Homo sapiens: one gene and its partners. The protein of the gene in region 7 purifies or fractionates together with the protein of the main gene of each other region. This does not show direct contact. Each region holds a gene or a part of one and is shown on either strand. Other genes may lie near its edges.

Region 1 (3,500 bases), on a different chromosome or scaffold from region 7:
GCCCTTACGTCTCTCCCACAGATGACTTGGCGTATTTCTTCATGTAATACTCGCCCAGTTCTTCTTCTCGCTGGTCCCTGGAGCACGAGTGGGGAAGCAAACACGAATTGAAGGTTGAGGACAGCAGGTGGGCTGACCTACTCCCAAATCTCCCCACAGGAGCCAATCCCACCACGTTTCCCTTCCTTGCCCACCTCCAGAGGTTTTGCAGGCGGCGAGCCCCAGAACGATCTTCATCCAGGACAACATTATCGATATTGGAGGCTGAAAAATAATGGGCAGAGGGCGTGAGCAAGGGCAGGTGGAGGGCAGGGGCCTGGAGAAAATAGGAGCGTGCAGCTAAGAGGGCCAGGGTTTGGCCCTGGGGCAGGAAGATGACATCTCACAGAGGAAATCCCAACCCCTCATCCCCTACTCTGTCCTACTCAGCATCCTGCTTCTTGTCAAAAAGACTGGGGATGGGGCCCAGCAAGTTGGGGGGCTTCCAGCTGTTCCCATCTCAAAGTCCAGGCACACCCTGGACTGCACCCCACCCCACACATCGCTACCACCCACAAATGCTCAGTCCCAGACAGACACATCCGTGCTTTCCCAGGTCAACAACTGGGGTATACCTGGCCCCAGAACTCCCTGACTCTGGATCCTACATGGGTCAGAGCCCTCAGGGCCAGACCGGGGCTGGTGGGGAGGCTACCGGTGAGGGCAGGTGCCTCAGGAAGGAGGAAATGTCAGGATATGGGAGGAAGGTCAGGGAATCACACTTTTCATATTCTTACCTTCAATCTCTTCTACTTGGAGGAAGAGGAGGTGGTGGTGGTGGTGGTGGTGGTGGTGGTGGTGGTGGTGGTGGGCGAGGGCAGACAAAGTATGAGCCAAATTATAGCAGCAAAATCAACCAATGGGTTGGGGGAGGGGAAGGGAGGGACACAGAAAGGTTGAAAACCAAAAGTAAAGGCCAGGCACCAGGTGGTTGGGGAGAAGCCGAAATGTATGAGGCGCACAGAACGGAAAATAACGGGGAAAGGGGGGCACTGGCCCAGGAAGTGGGGGGTATCTTGGGACAGAGCTCGCCCACCCTACAACCCCAGAAGGGATTCACTGGGCCCTGGGATCCCAGAGTCCTCTCCCCACAACATCCCCACCCCAGGGCCCCACCCCCCACTCATGGGCCTAAAAGGAAAAAGCAGGGAGCTGGTCTCTCTGGGAAGGACAGAAAGAAGCAAGGTGAGGACGGTGGGAGTTGGGGTGTACAGGGGATGCGGGGGTCGGGGGAATGGGCTCTGAAGACCCTCTCAGCCACCCTCTTCCCAGTAGTCTTGTGGAGGCAGGGCTCACACACACCTTTCTCTAGAATGTCCTCTGCTCCATCCTCCCACTGGTCCTCGTCCTCATACTCATCGTCAACATCTAAAACGGAAAGGCCAAGTGGTAAGTGGCAAAGGTGACCTCATAACAGCTCCCAGGACACGAAGCATCTCCTCTGGGAGATGTGCACTACAAATCCCCACCGCACAGAGCAGGACACTGAGGCTCCAACAGGGAGGCACTCGTCTGGGGCCGTGCCACAGAGCTGGTGCACGCATCAGGATCGAGGGGGACATACAGCTCCAACTAACTCTAAAAGTCATCCCCTCTCCTTACTCCACTCCCAAATCCCTTTTAAAAAACTAAGATCAAAGTAAGCAAAAAGAAAAGTTCCCTCCCAACTATCAGAAAATGATCAATAAATAGTTTTTTAAAAGATGGTTCATGGTCTGTTGGTTTTATGATTCTTGTACATTTATAACAGCTAATGCTGAGAGCATACTATACACCCTGCCCTGTTCTGAGTACCTGACACAGGTTCCTCACTGATCTTCCTGGCAACCCCGAGGGAGGCACTATCGTTGTTCCTATTTTACAGCAAAGGCTCTGAGACCCAGAGAGATTAAGGAACTTGCCCACAGACTCAGCTGGGATCTGAGAGAGGCAGTCTGGCTCCATGGTCCATGTACTTAATCTCTTTACCATGTTGGATGTACTGCTTTGCAGGTATCAAACATTACACTAAAAACGTAATACATGCACATAATGAAAAACTCCAATGTCCATAGAGGATGTAAGTATCAATTAAGTCTCCCTCACATTTCTAACCCCTAGAATCTCAGTAACCTCTCCCAAAGGCAACTCCGTGACTAGTTTCTTGCCTAGAGATATCTGTGTACATATATGAAATCCATGTAAGGCTGGACGTGGTGGCTCACACCTGTAATCTCAACACTTTGGGAGGCCGAAGTGGGAAGATCACTTGAGCCCAGGAGTTTGAAACCGGCCTGGGCAACATAGTGAGACCTCCTAAATCCAAAAACTTAAAAAATTAGTTAGGGTTGGGCACGGTGGCTCATGCCTGTAATCCCAGCACTTTGGGAGGCCGAGGCGGGTGGATCATGAGGACAGGAGCTCATGATCAGCCTGGCCAACATGGTGAAACCCCCGTCTCTACTAAAAATACAAAAAATTAGTCAGGTATGGTGGTGGGCGCCTGTAATCCCAGCTACTCGGGAGGCTGAGGCAGAGAATTGCTTGAACCCGGGAGGTGGAGGTTGCAGTGAGCCAAGATCACACCACTGCACTCCAGCCTGGGCAACAGAGGGAAACTCCGTCTCAAAAACAACAACAACAACAACAACAACAAAAAAAAACAGTCTAGTCAGGCCTGGTGATGCACACCTGTGGTCCCAGCTACTCAGGAGGCTGAGGTGAGAGGATCACTTGGACCTGGGAGGTAGAGGCTGCAGTGAGCCATGATCATGCCACTGAACTCCAGCCTAGGAAACGGAGTGAGATCCTGTCTTTAAAAAAAAAAAGAAAAAAGAAAAAAAAAAGGTCTGGGCACAATGGCTCATGCTTATAATCCCCGCACTTTGGGAGGCCGAGATGGGTGGACCACCTGAGGTCAGGAGTTCGAGACCAGCCTGGCCAACATGGTGAAACCCCGTCTCTACTAAAAACACAAAAATTAGTGGCACACGCCTATAATCCCAGCTACTCGGGAAGCTGAGACAGGAGAATCCCTTGAATCCGGGAGGCAGAGGTTGCAGTGAGCCGAGATCACACCACTGCACTCCAGGGTGGGCAAGAGAAACTCCGTCTTAAAAAAAAAAAAAAAAAAAAAAAGAAGAGGCGGGGCGCAGTGGTTCACGCCTGTAATCCCAGTACTTTGGGAGGCCAAGGTGGGTGGATCATGAGGTCAGGAGTTCGAGACCAGCCTGGCCAACATGGTGAAACCCTGTCTCTACTAAAAATACAAAAATTAGCTGGGCGTAGTGGCAGGCACCTGTAATCCCAGCTACTCGGGAAGCTGAGGCAGGAGAAGCACTTGAAACCAGAAGGTGGAGGTTGCAGTGAGCTGAGATTGCACCACTGCACCCCAGCCTGGGTGAAAAAGCGAAACTCCATCTCAAAAAAAAAAAAAGAAGAAAAGAAAAGAAATGCATGTAATCCACCCCGCCACCACTATG
Region 2 (3,500 bases), on a different chromosome or scaffold from region 7:
ATCTAAGCTCCCTGCTATGGTCTGAATGCTTATGTCCCCCAAAATTCCAGTGTTGAAATCCTAACCCCCGAGGTGATGGTATTAGGAGGTGGGGCCTTTAGGAGGCGATTAGGTCATGAGGGTAGAGCCTTCATGAATGAGATTAGTATCCTTATAAAGGAGTGCTCACAGAGACCCTCGCTCCTTCCACCATGTGAGAACCAGTGAAAAGGTGCTGTATATGAACCAGAAGGCAGGCCCACACCAGTCACCAAACCTGCCCGCTCCTTCATCTTGGACTTTTCAGCCCTCAGAACTGTGAGAAATACATTTGTTATTTATAAGCTACCCAGTAAGATACAGGTTGTGTATCCCTCATCTGAAATAACTGGGACCAGAAGTGTATCAAATTCCAATTTTTTTGGATTTTGGAATATTCGTATATATATAAAATGAGATATCTTGAGGATAGAACACAAGTCTAAAGACAAAATTCAATTACACTTCTTTCGCCTTATCATACACAGCCTGAAGGTAATTTTATACAATATTTTTAATAATTTGTGCATGAAACTTTTTGCACATTGTATACTTGAACCATCAGAAAGCAAAGGTGCCACTATCTCAGCCACCCTGTGGACAATCTGTGGTTGGCTGGCATCAGCATCCTTCCTGACTCTGAATCTATATGCTACTGATAAGCAATCACTTTCTTACACTTACTCACATGTAAGTATTTAACAGTAAAAATTACATGTATTTTATTTGTCTTTGTGGGTGTGCTTACGTGGTGAAATCTGGGAGTGCTTGGAAATATTTATATCACAGCTGAAGGGGGCTGGGAACATCTTTTTTCCCATGGGAATGCTGAATAAACTGTGTGTTATATGCCTTCATTCTGACTGTGACCCATCACATGAGGTCGGATGTGCAATTTTCCACCTGTCATGTCATGTCGGCGCTCAAAAAGTTTTGGATTTTGGAGCATTTTAGACTTCAGATTTTTGGATTAGGAATGCTCAACCTGTATTTTGTTACAGCAGCCCAAACGACACTCCCTTAATACTATAATCCACATGATTGTGTACAGTCTTTTATCCTAACTCTCTGCCACACTCAAATTGAGAGCCACTATACTAAATAAATAACTAAAAGCAAAGTTCCAGGATGGATGTGGTGGCTCACACCTCTAATCCCAGAACTTTGAGAGGCCAAGGTGGGCAGATCACTTGAGTCCAGGAGTTTGAGACTAACTGGTCAACGTGGCAAAACCCTGTCTCTACCAAAAAAAAAAAAAAAAATTTGCTGGGCATAATGGCACATGCTTGTAGCCCCAGTTACTCGGGAAGCTGAGGTGGGAGGATCACCTGAGCCCAGGAGGTCAAGGTTGAAGTGAGCCACGATTGTGCCATTACCCTTCAGCATGGGTGACAGAGTGGGATCCTGTCTTAAAACTTTAAAAAGCAAAATTTCCAGCCAGGCACAGTAGCTCATGTCTGTAATCCCAGCACTTTGGGAGGCCAAGGTGGGTGGATTGCCTGAGCTCAGGAGTTCAAGACTAGCCTGGGCAACATGGTAAAACCCCGTCTCTACTAAATACAAAAAATTAGCTGGGTGTGGCAGCATGTGACTGTAGTCCCAGCTACTCGGGAGGCTGAGGCAGGATAATTGCTTGAACCCGGGAGGCAGAGGTTGCAGTGGGCCAAGATCGCACCACTGCACTCCAGCCCAGGCAACAGAGCAAGACTCCATCTCCAAAAAAAAGGCAACATTTCCATACAAGTGTCTGGGCATTATGACTATAAGACAACATTAAATATCTGTCTGTGGCCGGGTACAGTGGCTCACGCCTGTAATCCCAGCACTTTGGGAGGCCGAAGCAGGTGGATCACTTGAGGTTAGGAGTTTGACACCAGCATGGCCAATATGGTGAAACCCTGTCTCTACTAAAAATACAAAAATTAGCCAAGAGTGGCAGCACACGCCTGTAGTCTCAGCTACTCAGGAGGCTGAGGCAGGAGAATCGCTTGAACCCAGGAGGTGGAGGTTGCAGTGAGCCGAGATCGCACCATTGCACTCCAGCCTGGGTGACAGAGCAAGACTCTGCCTCAAAAAAAAAAAAAAAAAAAAAAAACTGTCTGTAAATTAAGGGAGAGATCAGTAGAGAATTTTATAGTGTTTCTGCTTATTTCAATTGTGGTGTTAATTATTAAGCCACTATAAATCTTAGAACATTGTGAGGTTTAAATGAGATAAAAAAAATGTGAAAGCCTTATCATATGGCATGGTAGGCATCAACTGTAGGATCTGAATCTAGACCTTATGAACTTGACTCTAAAATTTACTTAATCAGACCCAATGCAGTTTTTTAAAGCACTCCAAACAAGTCCTTGGACACTTGCTTTTGCTGTCTTCCCAAATTAGCACTTTCTACCGCTGCCCTAATGAACAACTGTGATCTTCCTATCACTTCATAAGGTTCTAAAATCAGCACACCAGTGAAATACAGATATGATGACTATACTGCACTTCTCTTAGGAAACACAGAAGTATAATAATCATTGATGTTAAGGTAGAAATAAAATATACCAGCTCTAAAATATGCATAGCCAATTTTCATTATTTATAGTAGTCATGTTTCATACGTCCCTGAATTACGTCAATGAATTAGTGAATACTGAACCATTCCTCCTAGTGGGGATACATACATATCTTCATCTCACATAGATTATAATCTTTTTTTTTTTCCTTTTTTTTGGGACAGTCTCACTGTCACCCAGGCTGGAGTGCAGTGGCACGATCTTGGCTCACTGCAACCTCCACCTCCCGGTTCAAGCAATTCTCCTGCCTCAGCCTCCCAAGTGGCAGGGACTACAGGCACACACCACCATGTCTGGCTAATTTTTGTATTTCTAGTAGAGACGGAGTTTCGCCATGTTGGCCACTCTGGTCTCGAACTCCTGACTTCAGGTGATCCGCCCGCCTCAGCCTCTGAAAGTGCTGGGATTACAGGTGTGAGCCACCGCCCCTGGCCATATTATAATCTTAAATCCAAAAAACAACTCCTCCTGGTAGAGTTTATTTCCTTTATTTTACAAAAGAGAAAATGAAGTCTAGAAATGCTAAGTGACCTGCATGAGGCTGCCCCAGGGCTGAGATTCAAACCCCAGGAGAGCTGGAGCTTCCTGCACTGTACTGCCCTGCCCTTATACTGCCTCCATCCTCTGCCCATTTCTGCATGACAGCTGGGAAGCTCGGCTGGGAACGTAAACACAGGGAAACTCAAATTTTTCCTGCTCTATGTATGTCCACAAATGATAGCCAAAGCTTCATGGGTATTAATATTGGGGTTACAAATAAGCTTTGGCAAGTAGGCAAACTTGCAAATAGGAAACTCAAAAATAATAAGGGTCTACTGTATCTGTTTTTAATTCAGCTCATTTACTATTTAGATAATGACTATCAAAAGAGCTGACAAAAGCAATTTGATCAAAATGGGAGTGGAGAGAGCATCATGTGTA
Region 3 (2,790 bases), on a different chromosome or scaffold from region 7:
TGCCTGGGTTTGTTTTTTGTTTTTTCCAGAGACGGGGTGGAAGGTGTCTCCATATGTTGCCCAAGCTGGTCTCAAAACTCTTGGGCTCAAGTGATCATCCTGCCTCAGCCTCCCGAGTAGCTAGGACTACAGGTGGGTGCCACTATGCACTTTTATTTTGTAGAGACAGAGGTGGAAAGTGTCTCCATATGTTGCCCAAGCTGGTCTCAAATTCCTGGGCTCAAGCATTTCTCCCACCTCAGCCTCCCAAAGTGCTGATTACAGGAGTGAGCCACGACACCTGGCCCTTGTGCTCACTTTTAAGCAACCCTGCCAACAATAGAGCCTTCTCCAGGACTATGCTAGTAAGACACTTGTTCAGTGTCGTTTTGTAGGACAGAGAAAGCTAACTCAAACCACATTGCCACTATCCCGTCAGAAGTCTTATTCACTTTGCCAAGCCAAACTATTTCACAGAACCTCCCATATTAAAAACACAGAGAAAGAAAACACAGATAACATGGTGTTGTGATCTTTATTCCATTAAATGATCTTACAAATTGGAGTAAAACAGAAACATGCTTTTAATATACTAATAGCATAATCTCATCCCATTGCACTTTTTAAAAACTATATTAAGTTTCAAAGCCACTCAAAGGCAAGGGTCTAGCAGACAGTACTTTTAACAAATCATTTTTTAAAATAAAAAAACCTGAGGAAAATTTGTGTATGTACAAGATTAGTATTAACTCCTTTAAGGCTTACATCCATGACAGCATGTATCTAATTAGAAAGCTATGGGAATCAATGCTACCTTCCCTTGCTCATAAAAACATTTAAACTGTAGTTCTGGCACACGAAATTTGCCCCAAAGAAAAATGTCTTTCAAAGCCCTTCTGTCCCTAGATCTGTTTTGCAAAGTTTCTGATATGGGGTACTTAGGTCACTAATGACAGGAATTAGGATCTTGTCTTCTTTCTTGTTCATTATTTTTATTTGTGGCTTAATGTTTCACCTGTATGTGAAAGATTTGGGGGTTCAAGTCACAGTGCTGAATTTTACTTTTTAAAAGAAAAACTATCAAAAATTGCTTTTAAAAAATCCTAATTACATTAGAAAATAGGATACCTGTACATTCATTTTTCAGAGAAGGCACTATGACAATGGAGAAAAACAGCTTTAAAGAGCTTAGATAATCCTCTGAATTAAAGGCATTCTTACTACTTCTGAACACAGAAAACGCCTGGGGATTGTACTGGCAAGAGACCACCTATTCTAAACCTCAGGTACAAAGTGTCCACTTGCCTCCAGACAATACTGAATTGTACTTTCTCCTTGGTACTTCCCATTCGATGAAGCAGTCTCTCTCTGTGGTCTCTGAACCACTATTTATAAAAGTGATGACTCCAGGACCACAGCCCATACCACCTGAGGCAATCCCTGGGTACAAAGCTAGGAATCTGAACTTTTTAAACAAGCCTGCTAGGTAAGTCTTATGCACTCCAAGGTAGATGAGAACCACTACCCTAAACATAGCTACAACAGGACTTACAGCAAGAAAAACCATTTGACTGCAAATATTATTTTACAATGGGCTTCTTAATGTCATTTTTAAAAATTAATCACACAAATAGTTTGTACTTTCATAACTGAAGCTTGTCTTCATTATGCCCTTATCCCTTGACTAGAATTTTGTTAAATAAAACATATGTAAGCCAGAATGACACAGCCATGTTGACAACTTGAGATGGAAGATCAAATCATCCTAAATTACATTTCAATAGTTCCAGGAAAGAAAAAAGTCCTGTGAAGACTTCCATGTAAGTTACATCATTTTTTAAAAGAACCTAGCAAAAAATTAAAAACTGTTTTATTAAAGTTTTAATTTTTAAAAAATTAAAAAATTAAAACTGTTTTATTGCTTTTGCATGGACTTGATTCAATCTACTTAATTTTGCTATAACTCATACATACATACATACTTATCCAAACTCACCCTATCCAAGGCACCATTTTACAAGCCAAGTAGAACACTGTGTGTGATCCACTAATGAAACCAACCACCAGTACAAGGCAGTATTTTTGTGTGTTTGACCAAAGCGCTTTACTTCATGTAAGAGAAAAAATAAAGCAAAACAAGGCCAGGTTCCAGTGGCTCACGCCTGTAATCCCAGCACCCTGGAAGGCCAAGACAGGCGGATTCCCAGAGGAGTTGAGACCAGCCTGGTCAACATGGCGAAGCCCTGTCTCTACTAAAAATACAAAAATAAGCCGGGTGTGGTGGCACATGCCTGTAATCCCTGCTACTTGGGAGGCTGAGGCAAAAGAATCACTTGAACCCAGGAGGCGGAGGTTGTAGTGAGCCAAGATTGCGCCACTGCACTTCAGCCTGGGTGACAGTACAAGAGTCCGTCTCAAAAAAAAAAAGGAATAAAGCGAAACACAGGCAATTTTACCAAGTATAAAAGAGGTGTTAAAACGTAAACTTCCATAGAACATTTCTTGGTATACTACGAAAATAAGGCATGACTCAGCTGGGCGGGGTGGCTCATGCCTGTAATCCCAGCACTTTGGGAGGCTGGGGGGAGTGGATCACCTGAGGTCAGGAGTTTGAGACCAGCCTGGCCAACATGGCAAAACCCCACCTCTAGTAAAAAAACAAAAATTAGCCAGGCGTGGTGGTGTACACCTGTAGTCCCAGCTACTCAGGAAGCTGAGACAGGAGAATCGCTTGAACCTGGGAGGTGGAGGTTGCAGTGAGCGAGATTGCACCACTGCACTCCAACCTGGGCGACAGAGCGAGACCTCTGT
Region 4 (3,500 bases), on a different chromosome or scaffold from region 7:
CTCTTCATTACAGAGTAACATTTCATGGCATGAATTTACCAGATTACCTAACCATTCATCCATTGAAGGACATCTAGGTTGTTTCCATTTTGGGGTTATTAGGAATAAAGCAGCTATAAATATTTATATACAGGTTTTTTGTGAAAAGAGGTTTTCATTTTTCTGGAATAAATGCCCAAGAGTATAATTGCTTGGTTGTATAATAGTTGCATTACATGTTTAGTTTCCTAAGAAACTACCATACTGTTCTTCAGCATGGCTATACCATTTTACATTTTTATCAGCGATGTATGAGTGACAATTTCTTTGCATTTTCTCCAGCATTTGGTGTTATCACTGTTTTTAATTTTGGCCATTCTGCTAGGTTTGTAGTGCTAATATAATTGTGGTTTTAATTTGCATTTTCCTAATGGCTAATGGCATTGAACATCTTTCCATGTGTTCATTTACTATCGGTATCTTCAGTGATATGTCAGTTCATTATCTTTTGCCAACTTTTAAATTGTATTGCTGGATTTTTACTGTCGAGTTACGAGAATTTAAAAATGTATATTTTAGATACTAGCTTTCTGTCAAATATTTGGTTCGTTCATGATTTGTTCTAGTCTGTAGTCTTTTCCTTCTTTTAAGATGGCCTTTTGCAATACTAAAGTTTTTAGTTTTGAGGAAAACTAATTTATCAATTTTGTTTATGGAATCTGAGAACTTCCTGCTTAGCTTTAGATCCTAATGATTTTCTTCTATTTTTTCCCTAAAAGTTTTGTAGTCTTCTGTTTTAAATTGTACACTTGTGATTCATTTTGAGTTAAATTTTGTATAGAATGTGAGGTTAGTCTTAAAATTGCGTGGAGTGATAACTCCTACTTTATTTCTCTTTTTCAAAATTATAATCGGTATTCTAGGTCCTTTACCTTTCAGTATAAATTTTAGAATCTTCTCTACATCAACAAATGTCTTGCTGAGGTTTTTTTGTTTTTGTTTTTGTTTTTGTCTGTTTTTTGAGATATTCTTGCTCTGTTGCCCAGGCTAGAATGCAGTGGTACAATCATAGCTCACTGTAACCTTGAACTTCTGAGCTTTTTTCTTTCATTCTCCTGATAGTATCTTTCGTGGAGCAGAAATTGTTAAGTTTAATGAAATTCAGCATATTGATTATTTCTTTCATGGGTCATGCCTTTGATGTCCTATCTAAGAAGTCATTATCTAAAAAGTCATTATTGGCCGAGCGCAGTGGCCCAATGCCTGTAATCCCAGCACTTTGGGAGGCCGAGGCAGGCAGATCAGGAAGTCAGGAGTTCAAGACCAGCCTGGTCAACATGGTGAAACCCCATCTCTACTAAAAATACAAAAATTAGCTGGGCATGGTGGCGCATTCCTACTTGGGAGGCTGAGGCAGGAGAATTGCGTCAGCTGGGACCCGGGCAGCGGAGGTTGCAGTGAGCTGAGATCGTGCCACTGCACTCCAGCCAGGGCTACAGAGCGAGACTCCGTCTCTAAAAAAAGAGTCATTATCAACCCAAGGTTGTCTAAATTTTCTTCTATGTTATCTTTTAGGAATTTTGTAATTCTGCATTTTACATTGAGGTCTGTGGTCCATTTTGAATTAATTCTTGTGAACGGTGTAAGGTTATTGTCTAGATTTATTCTTTTTGCATGTGGATGTCCAGGTGTTCCAGCCCCATTTGTTGAAAACACTACTTATGCTCTGTTGTATTGCTTTTGCTCCTTCGTTAAATATCCGTTTATTATGTTTATGTGGGTCTATTTTTGTATGTTTATGTGGGTCTATTTTTGTACCTTCTATTTTGTCCCATTGATTTATTTGTGTGTCCTTTCACCAGTACCACACTGCTGTGATTACTTAAACTTTATAATACGTCTTGAAGTTGGGTAGTTTCCGTCCTCCAGCTTTGTTCTTCTCCTTCAATATTGTTCCATTGAGTTTTTAATTTTGGTTATTGTAATGTTCAGTTCTAAAATTGCAATTTGTTCTTTATTTTATATCTTCTTTTTTTCCTAAAACTTTGTAATTTTAATTTTTTAGAATGTTCATAATATCTTGTTGAAGCATTTTTATGACTGCTTTAATACCTTTCATAATTCTAACATCTTTGTGACACCCTTGCTTGATTTATTTTTTTCATTGAATTTGAAGTCTTCCTGGTTCTTTTTGTGATGAGCAATTTTCTTTTATTGCAACCTGGGTATATTGAGTATTATATTACAAGACCATGGATCTTATGTAAATCTTCTGATTTAGCTGGGTTTGTTGTGATTGTTTCTTTGTCTTTTTAAAAATGCTACTCTGGCAGCGAAAGGAACAGGGTAGATTGAAGTCTAGGTATTCCTCTTAGCCTCTGTTGACACCTTTGGCCAAGGGGTGCCTTGTTACTGCTGGATGAGGGTAGAAGTTCTGACATCCCACGAGGTCTTATGCCTGGTAGGGACAGGAGTACTTTGTCACTCCTCCCCATATGGTATGCACTGACACCAGTGGAGGATGGCCTTGTTATCACTGGTTGGGGACAAAAATCCTAACTCTACTCCATCTTCTCTGACATTGCCCCAGTGTAAAAGAGGGAAGAACACTGGGTTGCCGCCAGTGGAGGTGGAAGTTCAGGTTCCCCATGTGATGTTCATTGTTTGCAGGGAGGCTTGTTACTGGCACCCTGTTCAGCCTGTTCCTGATGCTACTGTGGTGGAAGGGTTGGAGTACCTCATTACTGCCTGTCAAGGATAGAAGTCTAGGATCTGTACTCAGCCTTTGAGAGTGTGTAGGGATGGTGCCACATTTTCTTCTGTGGTGTTTGGCTAGAGTAGAATGGTTATCATCTAAGTGTTTTCTGACTTGCTGGGTTCTCTTTCTTTGGCATTAAGTTTTGTCTTTTCAGTTCATTTCAAATTTACCATTTTATGTCTTACACTTTTTTAACTGCCACAAGATATACTGGATAATAAAAATCATAATTGAAATTTCAAACAATGCTTTTTGATATATTAAACTTATTTTCCTTTTTATGTTTTCCCTCCCCTCACTCAAAGGTGAAGATTTTACTGAAGTACATCAGAATTGGAATGCTCATAGCTCTGCTTCAGAGCATGCAAAAGGATATCGTAACAGAGAATTCACACGAGGATTTTCCAGGGCCAGATACCCTCGATCTTGCCATGGCAGGCCTCCACCTCAGCATTTCTATAACTCAGAACATATGGTATCTCAGGAGACTTCAGGATTTCCTTCTCAGAGACAAAATAATCCCATTATGCCACAATACCCCTTTCCTCTTCCAGTGTTTGACATGCATAATTTTCCCCTCCGCCCTCCACCCCCACCACCACCCCCACCTGTAAACATGGGTTGGGCTACACCAAACATGGCTGCTCATCCATTACTTAACTTACCATACTCCCTACCCCCACCCCCTCCCCCTCCACCACTGCCTCCTCCACCCTCTTCTGGAGATAGTAATTCTCATTTTGGACCTTACTATTAGGTGACT
Region 5 (3,500 bases), about 58 Mb from region 7:
AATAAATGAGCTTTCTCTATTCTTCAACCACAGTCTCTTACAGACTCAGGCCCTCACCCCCAATAATGTCAAAATCACAGGTCCTACCTTGTTCCCAGAAGCATCTTTTCCCTTCCCTTCTTCCTCCACATGAAAGCGGAGGTTCTCCAGCAGGATGACAGACCCAGCAGCTGGGTTGGCACAGGCTTTCTCCACTTCTGGGCCTACACAGTCCTTCAAGAACAGAACATCCCTGAGAAGAGGAAGAGATGAAGACACTTGAGCAGTATGAAAGTTAAAAACCAGTAACAACGTGCTTGACAACTTCCCCCGCCACAAAGTCTACCAGCACCAGAGCCTGGCACTTACTTGCCCAGCAGAGATTTGAGTTCTACAGCAACTGGCTCTAAGGAGTACTTGTCAGGCATGGGCACACCATCAGGCCGGCCTAGGTGGCTCATAAGGACTACCGACTTGGCTCCATTGTCCAAGCAGAATTTGATGCTTGGGACAGCAGCCTTAATCCTGCAACCAAAGAGAGACAACAAACAGAATGAAGTTACTCCTAGAAATTAGTGGGAACTAGCTTATTGATAACCTCATAAAGCATAAAGCTCCTTTTCTTCTCCAAGTTCCTTCAAATCTACTATCAGTAATTCAATGGTGGTCCTTAAGAAGTTAAATGCAATGCCAACCCTCCACCTAGGATTGTACAATCTCATTATGTATCTGCCCCTTTCACAGACAAGAGTTAACACAGCAGGCCTGAGGCTACTATCTACAGAAGGACCTGTCTGCAAGATTAGATCCTGGCTGGTATCTGGGAACTTGGCTTTCAAAGTTAACTGACAAGACCAACAAGGGCTATTCACTCTTCCTAGACCGTCTATACAAACATGGTGATTTATGCTGAACACCTGCCCCACTCTAGAAGTCTAGAATTTTTTTTTTCTTTTCCTTTTTTTGTTGAGACAGGGTCTCACTCTGTCACCCAACAGGCTGGAGTGGAGAGGCACAATCTCAGCTCACTGCAGCTTCAACCTCCCCAGGGGCTTAGGTCATCTTCCTACCTCAGCCTCCCAAGTAGCTGGAACTACAGGAATGCACCACCATGCCCAGCTAATTTTTGTATTTTTTGTAGGGGTTTTACCATGTTGTCCAGGCTGGTCTTGAACTCCTGGGCTCAAGTTATCTGCAGGCCTCAGCCTCCCAAACTGCTGGGAATACAGGCGTGAGCCACCACACCCAGCAGAAGTTTGTAATTTTGGTAGTTGCTAGGCAGAGGATCCCTATGTTACCAGTTCCCAACAAAAATCTTGGGATCTGAGTCTCTAGCATGCTTCTCCAGGCAGAAACACTGCAGACAATTACTGCATTTTTCACTGCTGAAGAAAGGAAAACACTTGATGTGTCCCCTCACAGGAAACTGGAAGCCCATGGATTTCTCTAGACTCCCCCATGTCTTTTCCTCTTCCTAATCTTGTCATGCATTCTTTCACTGTAATAAACTTTAGCCATGAGAACAACTCTGAGTCCTAGCAAATCATCATGAGATATGTGGGTGATCTTGGGGACCCCTGAAAACACTTCTTATATGACTATGGAAAATACATAAAATTCTCAAATCTTGAAACCATCAAAGGAAATTTGGGGAAAAATAAAAAACATGTAGTAACTTTTCTGCACCTATTAATAGATCCTAAGTCACTTTTTTATGTAGGAAAAAATAATTGCACTGTCTAGAGCTTGGTTTCCATAATGTATCACATTCATTACATTATAAATTAATCAAAAAATTAACTCCCTTTAAACATTTAAAAGTTTTGTTATAAACCTGCTACTAACTTGCCATTTTGCCAGTTTATAAGAAATTAAAATTGATCAAGAAAAGCATTTATTTATTCATCAAATATTTATTGAATGCTTCTTTTGTGCCAGGCATCATTCCAGGTTCTGAGAATGAAACAGAAAACTTTTTTAAAAACTCTCTGTTCTCATGGAAGTGAAATTCTAATGGAGAGAGACAATAAACATGTATGTGTGTGTGCGTACATGTAATATATCAGATGGTGAGATACAGAAAAAAAACAAACCATTGTTCCCCATTTTTGTTCCCCTACTTTTGAGGACAAAAATGACCGGGGAACAATGGTAGAGGAGATTTTTAGACAGGATGGCCAGGGAAAGTCTGATATGATGACATCTGAGCAAAGAATGGAATGATTAAAAAAGTTATACTTTTAAAATATCTTATGTTATTAATATTTAGCAGATATAAGAACTCCTTTATATCAAATTTAAAAATCTGTATCAGGTACAAAGTTTGTGCAATGGAACCAATTAGTTTTCAGGACTATCCCTTATCAGCAAGTTTTATTATTTCTAATGCTTCATTTTGTTAATCAACTCCATGGATTTCCGGAAATGAAAAGATTTCCAAACATGTTTCTTTACTCTTAAAATAACTTGATAGGCATATTTCCAATCGTTTCTGTGTGTTGCACAATAATGAAGATCAAGCGGGATCAGATCTGCCTTATACAAAGACCCTGCCACTATGGTACAGCAGGGATGTGCTTGGCAAAATGACAGGCTCTATTCTAGGACCAATACCTGAAAATGTTCTGGGCTAGACCTGCACTGTCCATTACGACAGTCATTTAGTCATGTGTGTCTGTTGAGTACCAGATATATAACTAGATCAAATTGAGATGTGCTGTAGTATAAAAACACATGCCAGATCTTGAAGACTTAGTACCAAAAAAGTTAAATGTCCCTTTAATTTAATTAACACAATTTGGCTCACATTGTATTTCTATTAGATACCACTGGTCTAGATCATTAGAAAGCACCTTGCCAACACAAACCCTTCATTTAAAATTTAAAATAGGCGGAGCACAGTGACTCATGCCTGTATTCCCAGCACTTTGGGAGGCCAAGGTGGGCGGGGTCCAGGAGCTCAAGGCCAGCTTGGGCAAAAGGGCAAAACGCTGTCTCTACAAAAAAAATATGAAAAAGTAGCCAGGTGTGGTGGCCCACGCCTGTGGTCTCAGCTCCCTGGGAGGCTGAGATGGGAGGATCGCTTGAGCCCAGGAGGCAGAGATTGCAGTGAGCCAAGATCGTGCCACTGCACTCCAGCCTGGGCGACAGAACGAGGCCCTGTCTCAAAAAAAAAAAAAAATTAAATAAAAACCTTCTTGATGGATACCCCATTTAACCTGATGTGATTATGTATTGCATGCTTTTATCAAAATATCTCATGTAACCCATATATATATATATATAAAATCTACAAAAATTAAAAATTAAAAAAATTAAAAAGAAAGTAAAGACAAAAATAAAGACCTTTTATAATCTAGTCAAAAGCAAGAGCAGTACTCTCACTTAAAATTTGTTTCTGAATCTAGGATCCAAGACACTGGAGCAGCTAAACTGACTGAAAACGTACTTCTGAAGTCTTTCCTGTTTGTTTTTTTGGAAGCAAAAACAAATGAAAATTCTCAAAAATTGACTTATCTGAG
Region 6 (3,500 bases), on a different chromosome or scaffold from region 7:
CACTGCACTCCAGCCTGGGCGACACGGTGAAACTCCATTTCAAAAAAAAAAAAATAGAACAACACACAGGTAGCCCAGGCAGCTACTGTACACCTGGCCAAGTGACTGTTTGTACCAGGGACAGTGGGCACTAGCTATTCTAAAGAAAATAGGAGTTGGGCGTGGTGGCTCATGCCTGTAATCCCAGAACTTTGGGAGGCCAAGGTGGGTGGATTACGAGGTCAGGAGTTCGAGACCAGCCTGGCCAATATGGTGAAACCTCATCTCTACTAAAAATACAAAAATTAGCCAGGTGTGGTGGTGCGCGTCTATGGTCTCAGATGCTTGGGAGGCTGAGGCAGGAGAATCACTTGAACCTGGGAGGTGGAGGTTGCAGCGAGCCAAGATTGCACCACTGCACTACAGGCTAGGCGACCGAGCGAGACTCTGTCTCAAAAAAAAAAAGAAAGAAAAGAAAAAGAAAATAGGATATGGAGGCAAAAGCAGATCCATCAGGGCTCTGCTTGGGAGGCTACAATGTGGTCACTGCAAGCTTCACCTGCTGAGGATCTGCCACAACAGAGTGAGGAGGCACAACGAAAGGAAGCAGCATCAACTCCGTGAACACCACTTTACGTTTTAAGGACAAGCAGGGCCTCCCACGATGGGCAACTCTCAGGAGTCCCTCCAGGCAAACACTCACTACATGCCACTTGCTATGCCTGGAGCAACCCAGACTCCTTGATGGACATCCCAGCTGGGTCCCTTCAGGAGGAAGCCTTCATCTAGACTGGCGTTTAGGGACTCCCCAAGACCTGCCCTTTCTGAAAGAACACCCCAACTCATTTCCATCCCCAGAAGGGATGAGATCATGGTTGACAAAAGAAATTTTAAGGAGAGAGAGAGAGAGAGAGAGAGAGAGAGAGAGAGAGAGAGATCCTTAAAATTTATATATTTATTATTATTAAATATATACATATATATGTAAAAATAAGATATATGTACATATATATTTTTGAGATAGAGTCTTGCTCTGTCCTCCAGGCTGGAGTGTAATGGTGTGATCACAGCTCACTGCATCCTCGACTTCTTGGGTTCAAGTGACTCTTCTGCCTCAGCCTCCGGAGTGGCTGGGACAACAGGCATGTGCCACCATGCCCAGCTAATTTTTTCTATTTTTGTAGAGATAGGGTTTTACTATGTTGCCCAGGCTGGTCTCAAACTCCTGGGGGCTCAAGCCTCCCATCTCAGCCTCTCAGAGTGCTGAGATTATAGGCATGAGCCACTGCACCTGGCCCCAAGGACATAATTTTTAAAAGAAAAAAGGACATGGTCACAGTATGTGATATTTATGGACCAAAAATAGAAAACAATTTAACACTCAACTTTAACGTAATAGTTAATCAGATTACACCTACCTACTCGGTGACATATCATGTAAGCATATAAAAAGAATTTACTATGCCTTATGTGGCACAAGGAAATGCTTCTAACATAAAATAAAGCAGGACCAGCCAGGCGCAGTGGCTCACACCTGTAATCCTTTTGGGAAGTGGGGCAGGCAGATCGCTTGAGCCCAGGAGTTTGAGACCAGCCTGGGCAACATAGCAAAACCCCATCTCTAGAAAAAATACAAAAAATAGCTGGGCATGGTAGGGCATGCCTGTAGTCCCAATTATGCAGGAGGCTGAGGTGGGAGGGCTATCTGTGCCCAGGAGGTGGAGGTTGCAGTGAGCTGAAATTGTGCCACTGTGCTCCAGCCTGGGGGACAGAGTGAGATCATATCTTAAAAAAATAAAATAAAATAAGAGCAGTACCCACAATTCTATCCACCTATAAATTATTAAACTACACAAAATCAGTAAGCTGATAAAAATTAAACATTAATATGGTAGGATCTTGGTTGACTGTTTTTCAAAATGTTATTTAAATGTTATATTGTTCTTGCAATTCAAGCCAGAAGGAAAAATAAATCCATCTCTATTCTTTCACAATTGTGTATGTAAAAAAATCTCAAACAAATCTACAAAAGAGCTACTAGAATAAGTGAGCTTAGCAAGGTTTATTACAAGGTCAATCTGTAAGTCAAATTTCAAATATTACAAGGTAAACCTACAAATCAAATAGCAATCAAATTTCTATATATCAGCAATGAATGGAAAGTTTTTAAAAGTACCATTTCCTATAGCACTAAAAGCATGAAAAACTTGGCGTAAATCTAACAAAGTATGTGTAGGATCTGTGTTGAAAACTACAAAACACTACATCAGTGAAGTGACATACTGCACTCATGAATCAGAAGACTTGATATTGTTAAGATGTCAATTTTCTCAAACTAATCTATAGATTCTACAGATTTGATAGATCTATAGATCCAAGGCTCTCTCACTCAAAATCTCAGCATGAATTTTTTAAAAAACTTCATAAACTGATTCTAAAATTTATATGCAAAAGCAAAGAAACTAACAATTTTGGAAAAAAGAACAAACCTGGAGGACTCATATTTCAAGATTACTATTAACCAGTAATCAAGACTGCATTGCTGGGCGAGGCGCAGTGGCTAATGCCTGTAATTCCAACACTTTGGGAGGCCGAGGCAGGTGGATCATGTGAGGTCGGGAGTTTGAGACCAGCCTGGCCAACATGGTGAAACCAGTCTCTACTAAAAATACAAAAAGACCGTGCTGCTGAACGAAATTTAGATGTACAGACCAATGGAACAGAATGAGAGTCCAAGAGTCCAGAAATAGACCCACAGTATATGGTCAACTGATTTTCAGTAAAGGTACGAAGGCAATTCAATAGAGAAAATATAGGCCTGGCACAGTGGCTCACACCTGTAATCCTAGCACTTTGGGAGGCCAAGGCGGGTGGATCACCTGAGATGGGGAATTCAAGACCAGCCTGGCCAATGTGGTGAAACCGTCTCTACTAATAATACAAAAATTAGCCAGGCGTGGTGGCACATGCCTGTAATACCAGCTATTTGGGAGGCCAAGGCACAAGAATAGCTTGAATCTGGGAGGTGGAGGTTGTGGTGAGCTGAGATCGCGCCATTGCACTCCAGCCTGGGCAACAAGAGCGAAACTCCATCTCAAAAAAAAAAAAAAAAGAAAGAAAGAAAGAAAGAAAGAGGCCGGGCGCGGTGGCTCACGCCTGTAATCCCAACACTTTGGGAGGCCGAGGCGGGAGGATCACGAGGTCAGGAGCTCGAGAACATCCTGGCAAATACGGTGAAACCCCGTCTCTACTGAAAATACAAAAAGATTAGCCAGGCGTGGTGGCGGGCAACTGCTCGGGAGGCTGAAGCGGGAGAATGGCATGAACCCAGGAGGCGGAGCTTGCAGTGAGCTGAGATCGCGCCACTGCACTCCAGCCTGGGGGACAGAGTGAGACTCTGTCTCAAAAAAAAAAAAAAAGAAAGAAAAAATGGTTTTGTTTTTGTTTTTGTTTTTTAAACAAATGGTGCTGGAACAATTATATATTTATATGCCATAGAAGAATAAGAAACCTTAACCTAT
Region 7 (3,500 bases):
CAAGACCAGCCTGGCCAACATGGTGAAACCCCATCTCTACTAAAAATACAAAAATCAGCCAGGCGTGGTGGTGCACGTCTGTAATCCCAGCTACTGGGGAGGCTGAGGCATGAGTATAGCTTGAACCCCGGAGGTACAGGTTGCAGTGAGCCAACATTGCACCCCTGCACTCCAGCCTGTGTGACAGAGTGAGACTCTTGCCTCAAATAAATAAAATAAAATAAAATAAAAGGCAGAGGCAAAATGATCCCAGTATCTGAAATCCCCAGATGAAATGTTTTTCAGGGCAACTGTTGTCTGATTATACAAACATTCCAATGAGACCCTTGAAAAATCTCTAATTCTTAGTATTTATGAGTTCAGAAAGATATACCTTGAGGCTAAAAAATATATTTAAATTGTATTGGTTTTTAGGTACTTTATCATTATAAAAAACAAACTGCACTCAAATACATAAAACTACTCAACTCTGTTACAATCATAAATTTTACTGATATTGTTTAAAAAATATGTGGTTATCAATTTTACCTACACTTGTAAAAACAATGAGACATCACAACTAAATGCTTTTATGATATTTAATTAGTTTAAGCATGGTGTTAGAAGTGTCATTAGAATTTACTCTGATAAAAGTATTTATCATTTTGACTAATTTCTTAAAACTAGTATATTTCAAAGTATATTAAACAAACAGAATAATAATAGAAACTTGATGACATTATGTATATACTACATACAACTACAGTAAATACAATTATAAAATCCTGTCATTTCTAATTCCTATAACAAACCTGTATAGAAAAATTTAGCTCCTGGTACCACTGATTTCAATCCACACAGAAGTAAACGGTTCTGGTACATAAGCCTAAACTATCTTATTTAATTTGATGTTCAACGTTTTCCAAACAGATGGCTTCTCTTAGCTCATTTAAGCCCTTATTATATTACAAATAGACACTCTGGAAAATTAAAATCCCCACCACTGCTAAATCTAAACCTATTGTATAGATTGCTAAAGGTACCTGATGAGCTAATGAAATTATTTTAAAATAATGTGTAGGCACACTTGACAGAATAAAACTAGATGGCTATTACCAAAAATATACTCTAGAATATATGGAACCTTTCAAAAGGGAAAAAAATTACAAACTTTTGTTGCATAGACAGCTTCTTCTTATAGTCTTTGCACTTCTTCTTCTTCTTTGAGGCATCATATTCTCCCTTCAGTTGAAACTTTGCCACCTCAACATGTAATTTGTAGCCTCTAATTTCATCTTCATCCAAAAGTTTTAATGCAAGTTCCACAGATTCTCTCTTTATAAATGTAAGACAAAATATAGTCAGTTATACAACGAAATAAAACTTCAGGAGTTTTTTAGATGAACGATGATTATACATAAAATAATTTAAATTCTTATATTTATATATTATGAATATACGAGATCTCGTTCTCTCTTTGAGATAAAGAACTCTAGAATCTGAACCAGGAAACCCGCATCTGAGACACAGCTGTCCCTAACCGGCTGTGTGAACTTGGGTAAATTATTCAAGCTTCCTGAGCCCCAATATCGTCGTATGTAGAATGGAAATAGTTAATACCTTCATCACAAGGTTCTTGACAAAATTAAATGAAATAATGCATGGAAAGGATAAGGACTAACATATGGTAGGTGTTCAATAAATATTATTATTGGGTAATTTTGTCTCTTGAGGCCACAATTTCTCATTTGCAGAATGAAGGGAGCAAATCTGCATGATTTCTAAGGTGTATTTCTTTTAAAATTCTATAATACTCTTACTTAAAAGACTAGATGACTCAAGGAATTGGGAACACCATAGACAGCCTTTAATTTTTTGGTTCATCCATTAAATTGTGAGTCTGTAATACACTGAGAAGTAGAAGACAATTATCTGATGACTTGTACTTTATATTAAATACATGTATGGATTCCAGGTCTTAGAGAAAGGACAGTTATCAGCCCTATACAAACAGAGTCAAAGATCAGAGGACCTGTAGAAAAGAAAAATGGATAACTGAACTCAGCTGCTCACATATATGGGTCCTGGAATAATTCACTATATTTTCCTGGAACTCAATTTACTGTTTTGACAATCTTGTACTTCTATGGGTCTCAAAACTCAATTTTTTTCCTTTAAAAATTTAAAAAATCTAACAGAACTCCCTAAGAATCTGTTCGCAGATTTTTTAATAATCCTTAAAGAACTTATAAAACCCTCAAATCTCCTTACATTTGAACATTACAAAACTACCATCCTAAAATGGTCATGCTCATGTCCCATAACCATCACGTTTAAGATTCAGGTCAAAAACCTATTTCCCAAAAAGCTGTCAGCTTAATCCTACTCTCTTCTGATCTCACTGGAATACTGTATACTCACAACACACCTGTGGTGTTTGTACTTTTGCTTTACCATTTTGACTTTACTCTGTAATTATTTCCAGGTTTGACTTATGTACATGTCATCATTTGTTCTGTACCCTGTGATAATGTATAACACATGCTCCTAAGGTGGCAGGTGTTCCAGAAATGATGGCTGCCTCTGGCATTGAGGTTTCTTTGTGTAATTTATGGTACTATGACTACATGAAGTTCTGCAAATTTCTCTTAATACCACTCTCTCTTTTCTCACATTCAAAAAAATATTTTAAAGCAGTAAGAATAAGCTATCGTCTCCTTCATGGTCTAATTCAAGGGTCAGAAAAATCCTTTTGTTAAAGGGCCAGTTCGTAAATATTTTAGGCTTTGTAGGCCACAAGGTCTGTGCTGCAACCACTCAACCCTATCAGTGAAACACAAAGGCAACCATAGACAAATGCATAAATGAATTAGTGTGGCTGTGTTCCATAAAGCTGTATTTACCAAAACAGAGCCCGAGTTTGCTGAACCCTGGTGTAATTCATTCCAATGGACAACTAAAATGTTACTGGCTTTTTTTCTTCTTGAATTTTTAAAATGTAGTCTGAATTGACTGTACACATCAATAAAAAAATCTTTCTAGTGAGAATTTTTCAAGACAGAAGAAGCACTCCAGTCGCATACTTATATAATACTTTTACCTGATAACATATTTTCTTAAAACAAGTGAATAATCTTACCAATGTGATACACACAGGTACTAACTGAAATTTCAGTTTTCTTCATATCCTGTTTTGAACAGTTCTTGGTGTTGGTTATCATCTATAGAAATTATAGCCCTGGTTCCTGAGTTAAAAACGAAGATACAAGAAACTTATTTGATCATACAACTTACTTTCAAATAACAGCAAAGACCGTCTCCTTTAAGATTTCCTTGATTATCTTTGTAAAGTTTGACCTTAAATTCTTCTGTCTGAGGATCTCTCATAATAATGCCAAACTTGGACATAAGTTGTATAAATTCATCCACTGTAATATCTGGAGGCAAACCTGTCATTTAAGAAAAATTAAAAAACATTTATAATTGATAATGAAGGTGAATTACTTAGCATTCTACCAATT

Evidence for each region.
Region 1: the proteins of HTATSF1 (region 7) and SUPT5H purify together in Homo sapiens (affinity purification with western blotting; 2 studies listed by BioGRID, with this or other methods). This does not show direct contact.
Region 2: the proteins of HTATSF1 (region 7) and POP1 fractionate together in Homo sapiens (co-fractionation; one large-scale study listed by BioGRID). This does not show direct contact.
Region 3: the proteins of HTATSF1 (region 7) and ATL3 fractionate together in Homo sapiens (co-fractionation; one large-scale study listed by BioGRID). This does not show direct contact.
Region 4: the proteins of HTATSF1 (region 7) and NAF1 fractionate together in Homo sapiens (co-fractionation; one large-scale study listed by BioGRID). This does not show direct contact.
Region 5: the proteins of HTATSF1 (region 7) and PGK1 fractionate together in Homo sapiens (co-fractionation; one large-scale study listed by BioGRID). This does not show direct contact.
Region 6: the proteins of HTATSF1 (region 7) and AKAP8L purify together in Homo sapiens (tandem affinity purification; one large-scale study listed by IntAct). This does not show direct contact.

The regions. Positions count from the first base shown.
Region 1 is NC_000019.10:39,455,582-39,459,081, reverse strand, and holds part of SUPT5H (transcription elongation factor SPT5), read right to left. Parts: intron 1,408-3,500; coding exon 1,342-1,407; intron 789-1,341; coding exon 777-788; intron 265-776; coding exon 195-264; intron 78-194; coding exon 9-77; intron 1-8. UniProt on the Homo sapiens protein: Component of the DRB sensitivity-inducing factor complex (DSIF complex), which regulates mRNA processing and transcription elongation by RNA polymerase II.
Region 2 is NC_000008.11:98,123,793-98,127,292, reverse strand, and holds part of POP1 (ribonucleases P/MRP protein subunit POP1), read right to left. Parts: intron 1-3,500. UniProt on the Homo sapiens protein: Component of ribonuclease P, a ribonucleoprotein complex that generates mature tRNA molecules by cleaving their 5'-ends. Also a component of the MRP ribonuclease complex, which cleaves pre-rRNA sequences.
Region 3 is NC_000011.10:63,623,587-63,626,376, forward strand, and holds the end of ATL3 (atlastin-3), read right to left. Parts: 3' UTR 501-2,790; downstream 1-500. UniProt on the Homo sapiens protein: Atlastin-3 (ATL3) is a membrane-anchored GTPase that mediates the GTP-dependent fusion of endoplasmic reticulum (ER) membranes, maintaining the continuous ER network. It facilitates the formation of three-way junctions where ER tubules intersect.
Region 4 is NC_000004.12:163,128,891-163,132,390, reverse strand, and holds part of NAF1 (H/ACA ribonucleoprotein complex non-core subunit NAF1), read left to right. Parts: intron 1-3,042; coding exon 3,043-3,494; 3' UTR 3,495-3,500. UniProt on the Homo sapiens protein: RNA-binding protein required for the maturation of box H/ACA snoRNPs complex and ribosome biogenesis.
Region 5 is NC_000023.11:78,110,748-78,114,247, reverse strand, and holds part of PGK1 (phosphoglycerate kinase 1), read right to left. Parts: intron 505-3,500; coding exon 349-504; intron 233-348; coding exon 88-232; intron 1-87. UniProt on the Homo sapiens protein: Catalyzes one of the two ATP producing reactions in the glycolytic pathway via the reversible conversion of 1,3-diphosphoglycerate to 3-phosphoglycerate.
Region 6 is NC_000019.10:15,405,489-15,408,988, forward strand, and holds part of AKAP8L (A-kinase anchor protein 8-like), read right to left. Parts: intron 1-3,500. UniProt on the Homo sapiens protein: Could play a role in constitutive transport element (CTE)-mediated gene expression by association with DHX9. Increases CTE-dependent nuclear unspliced mRNA export.
Region 7 is NC_000023.11:136,500,592-136,504,091, reverse strand, and holds part of HTATSF1 (17S U2 SnRNP complex component HTATSF1), read right to left. Parts: intron 3,429-3,500; coding exon 3,274-3,428; intron 1,315-3,273; coding exon 1,151-1,314; intron 1-1,150. UniProt on the Homo sapiens protein: Component of the 17S U2 SnRNP complex of the spliceosome, a large ribonucleoprotein complex that removes introns from transcribed pre-mRNAs.